Regions from separate parts of the Homo sapiens genome. Here region 2 is linked to region 1. The links come from fine-mapping of genetic effects on gene expression. Tissue or cell type: whole blood. Region 1 holds a variant in brackets; the other region holds the start of a gene. All regions are shown on one strand. Distances are from middle to middle. Region 1 overlaps TMEM43 (transmembrane protein 43). Region 2 holds the start of XPC (XPC complex subunit, DNA damage recognition and repair factor).

What was found. PIP is the estimated chance that this variant, and not a neighbour inherited with it, causes the effect.
Region 2: XPC starts here. The variant in region 1 is fine-mapped to the expression of XPC in whole blood (TOPMed, PIP above 0.99).

The regions. Positions count from the first base shown.
Region 1 is chr3:14,139,850-14,142,759 of GRCh38, reverse strand. It overlaps TMEM43 (transmembrane protein 43), which reads right to left. Exons shown (of 12, transcript NM_024334.3): 12 at 1-1,167. The coding sequence ends at 965. Among named protein-coding and RNA genes, the nearest start is that of XPC-AS1, 8.3 kb to the left of the region's middle. The variant T/A (reference allele first, on the strand shown) is at 1,517.
Region 2 is chr3:14,176,855-14,179,764 of GRCh38, reverse strand. It overlaps XPC (XPC complex subunit, DNA damage recognition and repair factor), which reads left to right and starts at 1,164. Exons shown (of 16, transcript NM_004628.5): 1 at 1,164-1,299. The coding sequence starts at 1,197. It overlaps LSM3 (LSM3 homolog, U6 small nuclear RNA and mRNA degradation associated), which reads right to left and starts at 948. Exons shown (of 4, transcript NM_014463.3): 1 at 884-948. The coding sequence starts at 904. RefSeq lists enhancers at 855-904, 1,005-1,354 and a silencer at 1,405-1,524.

The DNA of each region.
Region 1 (2,910 bases):
AAAACAAATCCTTTTGCTGATACTTGTTTCAAAAGCATCCATTGTAAAGCTTCTCAGTGACACAAAATACTGAGAGGTAACTTTTTATCAATCAAACCACATACCCCAATTTAACACCTTTCAGTGCTCTGAATTCAACTGACAGACTAAAGGGTGTTTCCTGTAACAGTCTGAAATATTAAGTGTTTTTTTTGTTTTGTTTTTAAATCTTATTTCAGAAAACTTCCTCTTGGGGTAGGAAAGTACACATGAAGCAGCAAAGTAACGAAGAAAAACTTAAATAGGGCCTTCAGAGATCCCACACACTACAAAGATTCTGCCAAGCCATAAGATAAGTGTGAAGCCCAGTATATGTCCAGCTTTTCTCCTCAGGACATCTTCAGTGTTTCTTCTCTTTTAAACACCACATCAGGTTCTAGCCACAGACTTGTGTTTTGGGTGTGCCTGCTTTGAGGGGTCCATGCCCAGTGTGTCTGCTGGTGACCCAGGACTCAGCAGTAATGACTAACGGCCGCCCTTCAGGATCACAGATGTGCTTGGTGGTGGTGGCAAAGCATGGCACTTGTGTGCAGTGATGAGAAGCAGCACACGGCAAGGCTGAGCCCTTTATCAGCAGGCCTCCGTAGAGCGTGTCTGCGTTGTCAGCTGCCAATGGGCTGAGTGGCTGGCCGTACCCACTCAGTCCAAGAGAGGAAGGAAACAGCAGGAGAAGCTGTCAGCTTGCCATTCATGAGCTGCTGCTGCCCACCAAAGCTGCTTACTGGCAAGAAGAGATGTGGGGAAGACATGAGCTGGTGAACACCAACCTGGTGCACATGCTGCCAAGTCTGGCCCCTGAAGAGGAGAGGGAGTGCAGAGTCCAAAATTGACCGGGGCTCCTGCTCTGGCATGGAGCTGGGTCAGAGGTGAGAGAGGACCTGGATCCTAGGGCTCACGCAGGTGTCGGGCGGGTGCCAGGGTCTTTTCACTCCAACTTTTTGGCTGGCACCCGTGTCCGAGCAACAAGGATGGGCACAAGGGCCAGGCCGGCAATGAGGAGGGCCCACAGGGGTCGGTAGAAGAGCCAGCCAGCCGCCACGGTCAGCAGGGTCAGCGAGGTGGCCACACAGAAGGCAAAGGCTTTCAGGCCAATGTTGACCAGGTCTCGGAAAACAGGAAACCAGTCCACTGTGGAAAGGAGAAAGGTGATGAGGTGCCACCTGCTCTACACCTCACCAGCTCAGCAGATCTCTCCTGTCCCTAGATGAGGATGGGCCCATGTTGCTACATGCATGAGGAGGGGAGAGGATCAGTGGGTGGAAGGCAAGGAGCTTCGTTCTGAAAGCTAAGGGAGCACAGGAGCCTCTGCTATGAGCTGCGTGGTTGGGCACATTGCCTAAGCCACCCACTCTACCCTGATCCAGGGGAGAGGATGTAGCAGTGCTTTGTAAACTTTAATACTTTATGTGGAGAGTAGTCTGAGGCCAGTATAAAGACATTTGCCTGTAATGCTAGAAATAACCTGGGTCCTGCACAC[T/A]CATACAAGAGGCTGTGGGTGGAGCCTCCTGAAGGTGCCTATTTGGGCCTCTCAGCCATTCCTAGAGGTGTTGGTTCATTCATGCAGCAGGCTGTTACTAATGATTTATGTGCCCAGCACTGAACCAGCAGGTGCTAGAGGAAATAAATTAGCCTAAGCATTGGCCTCTCCTCAAGAATCTCACAGACTATTGGTCCAATAGGATAAAGCCCAGAATCCAGCTAAATTCATGAGGAATTACCCTATTCTTGCCTTGTGTGACCTCTCCAGGTTGGCATTCCATAGCTGATGTCCACTCAGGGAATCTTCGCTCAGTTCCCAGGAGGCCACCAATGGTCTGGAATCACTGGGTTTGCAGAGCAAGCCCTGGTGCCCCACCATGCCTGCAGCACACCCTGCAAGCCACTACCTGGCCTCATCCTGATCTGTTCCCATACAGCACTGCTACTCAGCCCTTATAATAAGCAAAGTTCATGTTTCTGAACGTTGCCTGTGTTAGGCACCATGTGCACCATCTCATGAAGCACTCATGCCCACCCTGTAAGGTAGGTACTCTTCTTAACTCCATTTTACCCACAGGGTCACTGAGACTCAGGGAATTAAGAAACTCACCACCAGTCCTCCTGTTAGAAAGTGCCAGAACCAGGATTTGAACTCAAGACCGTATGGGCCCAGAGCCTGGGCTCTGAGCTGTTGCTCTAAGTCTTGTCTGTCTCTAGCTGTGGAGTCTTACACACGTTGGTATTTATCAAACGCATGGGGAACTGTGTGCTTCCCTGCTGCGCTCCCAACTCTCCCCACCCACCCTGGGGGTCCCTCCACACTCTAAGTCTGTCCTGAGTCTGGCGCATTCCAGACGTAGAGTGAATTGGGATCACAGACATCAGAGATCCAAAGAAGGGCCCACTGAGACAGACACGAGGAAACCAAGGCTCCAGAAGGGAACTGGTCTCCCCAGGGTCACACAGGCAAGAAAGAGGATTCCGTTTAAATGCTCATCTCTCGCTAATGTGCCCACCACGTCACTGGTCTTTCTGAGCACAATTCAGCTGTCCAAAGAAAGGCTCAGGGAGAGTCCTTCCCTTCCCGGGCCTGTTTTCCCAACTGTAAACAAAGGAGGTGGTCCCCCCAGCTCAGACAGCCCAAGATGTGCAGCCAGACCTCTTCTGACTTGTGCATGCTGAGTGGGGAAGAGGTTTCTGTTGGCACCCAGAGAAGACTGATGCAATCATGTGACTGGAAGGGACACACACCAGGGAAAGGCTTGGATGGAGAGTCCTCCGAGGAACCCCATCCTCCTGGGCCCAGAACGCACTTAGTCACCCTGGGCACTCAGATCCCGAACCACGCTGGGCCACAGGTCTCCTACTGGGCTCACTGGTGCCAACCTCAGG
Region 2 (2,910 bases), 37 kb before region 1:
TCATCTAACTCATTCACTCAAATATTTTTTGAGTGTTTCCAGCACTGTTCTAAACCCCAAAGACAAAAGAATGAACAAAACAAAATCCCTGCTCTTATGGCATTTACATTCTAGTGGGGAGAGATTCACATTAAACAAAGATGCATACATTTAATATGAAAAAATAACTCTCTATGAAGAAAAATGAGGCAGGGTAACCAGAGTAGCGGGAGTGCTATTTGGGCAGAAGTCCTCTCTGAGGAGGTCAGATTTCAGTAGAAAGTTTAAGTTGTGGCATGATCTCCAAAGATATTTGAGGAAGAAAAAGACCAGGTGAAAAAGCTTCTAGGACCATCTGTTATTCTGCATACCAGTTCCTTGTTTCCTTCACAGCACATCACAGTTCCTGGAAGTCTTACATATTTATATTTACTTTTATCTGTTCTCCTCGCAAATATAAGCTCCAAGTAATGGCAAGGATCTCTTATATGTCGATGTCAGTGTCCCTGGCCCTTAGAACAGTGCCTAACCATACAAAGCTGATGTTCACTCTATCTGCTGAATGAATAAATAATTGTTGCGCTCACTAATGATAACAACTCCTAACTTTATTACCTGGCTTTCTATTGGAATCCTGACAGCTCCATGAGGTAGCTAAGGATAATAATCTACAGATTTAAAAAAATGAAGCGAAGAGTGTGAGAATAGTCATCAGGTGGGCTTCTAACAGGAAAAGGTCTCAGGGCCTACGGCAAAATTCGGAGGGGGGGTTACGGAAAGGACAGGGTGGATTAGGCCATGGTGACTTGGAGAGAGGAGGCACGACTGGCCATTTTTCCTGAGTCTGGAAAAAGCAGCCTAGTACAAGAAGCTCCTTCGAGCGACCTCCTTAAAATACACTTACCTGGTCTACGTCGTCCGCCATGTTTCAAACCCTGCGCCCTTTCCCGCCTCTCGCGAGAACACAAGAGCAACGTCAATCTCCGGAAACGTGAGGATACAATACACCGGAAATAGAGAGAAACCTGTTGTGCTCTTTCCTGCTTCCCGCAGTTTTTTAGTGGCCACGGGTATGGGGTGGAGCTTCCTTTAGGGGCGTGACTAGGCCTCCAACGAAGGGGCGTGGCCAAGCGCACCGCCTCGGGGCGGGGCCGGCGTTCTAGCGCATCGCGGCCGGGTGCGTCACTCGCGAAGTGGAATTTGCCCAGACAAGCAACATGGCTCGGAAACGCGCGGCCGGCGGGGAGCCGCGGGGACGCGAACTGCGCAGCCAGAAATCCAAGGCCAAGAGCAAGGCCCGGCGTGAGGAGGAGGAGGAGGGTGAGAGCGAGGCCCAGCGGGCTTCGCGGGAGACGCCGCCGGTGGGCGGAGGAGGCCCAGAGGCAGGGCGGGAGTCCAGACGCGGAGGCCTGGTGGAGGTTGCTGCGCGCGTTCCGCGCCGTGGGGGCAGCCCGGCAGGCTGCGGCCGGCCCTCCCCGCTGTCCCCGCGTCTTTGTCCTGCGCACCCAGAGCGGTTTCCCGCGAGCTTCGCCCGATCCAAGCTCCTGCGTAGCTTTTTTCCCGCTCCCCGTTGTCCAGAGGATACAGATGTTCAGGGTTGAACTCGGAGAAGGCAGTTATTTGTGTCCCAGGAAGACAGACGGACGGACCAGGACGTAGAGTGATGCAGTGTGCTGACTCCCGAATGATAACTTCAGCTGAGTCTCACCCAGAGTTCCACAGTGGGATCCCACCTGACTTCCCCTCATGGATATTTGATAGGCTTCTTACATTTGTCATGGGCAATGCAGAACTCATGGTTTTCCTCTTTAAATCTATGCTTTCCTCCGTTTTTCCAGTCTCAATACTTGTTATAAAGCAAAGCCCACCTTTTTCTTATGTCCACACATCCAGTCCGTCAGCAAGTCCAGTCAGTTCAGCCTCAAGAGTGTATTTCAAATTTGTCCACTTCTCTTCATTTCCATGACCACAGCCCCTGTCCAAGTCATCATCACCTTTCAGTTGAGTGACTGCAGTTTCCTCTTTACTGGCCTCCCAGCTCTGCATCCAGCAACCCAAATAATCTTAAAAAAAAAAAAAATCATGCCCTGCTCCTGCTTTAAACTCCCCTTGGTTTTCCATTGCTCTTAGCTTAAAATCCAGTTGTTTTATCCTGGCCTACAAGATACTACATGTTTTGGCTCTTGCTACCTCTCCTGTTTCTCTTACCACTTGTTTCCTTGCCAGATACCCTCCTTATTGGCCTCCTTTCTCTTCCTCAAATATGCCAAGTTATTCCTTGAGTCTTTTCCTTTGATGTTCCTTCTGCCTAGAGTGAACCCCCCATGGCTTTTACCAGGGCTGATTTTTTCTATTTCTTCAAAACTCAAGTTAGACATTCCTTGAGCAAACTAAGGTGGTCCTTCCCAGATACCCCGCGGATACTAAAACCTGTGATGCTCAAGTACCTTATATCAAATGGCCTAGTGTTTCCATGTAACCTATGCACATCCTCCGACATACTTTAAATCATCTCTAGATCACTAATAATACCTAATACAATGTGGATACTATGGAAATAGTTGTCATGCTGTATTTTTTAAATTTGTATTTTTTTTCCCGAAATATATTCATCTGTGGTTGGTTGAATCTGTGGATGCAGGGCCCGTGGATTGGTAGGGCTAAATGCTAAATAAATATTTTATTTATTTTTTATTTTTTTCGAGACAGTGTCTCACTCTGTCGCTGAGGCTGGAGTGCAGTGGCGTGACCTCCGCCTCCTAGGTTCAAGTGATTCTCCTGCCTCAGCCTCCCGAGTAGCTGGTGTTACAGGTGCCTGACACCATGTCCGGCTAATTTTTGTATTTTTGTATAGATGGGGTTTCGCCATGTTGGCCAGGCTGGTCTCAAACTCCTGACCTCAGGTGATCCGTTTGCCTCGGCCTCCCGAAG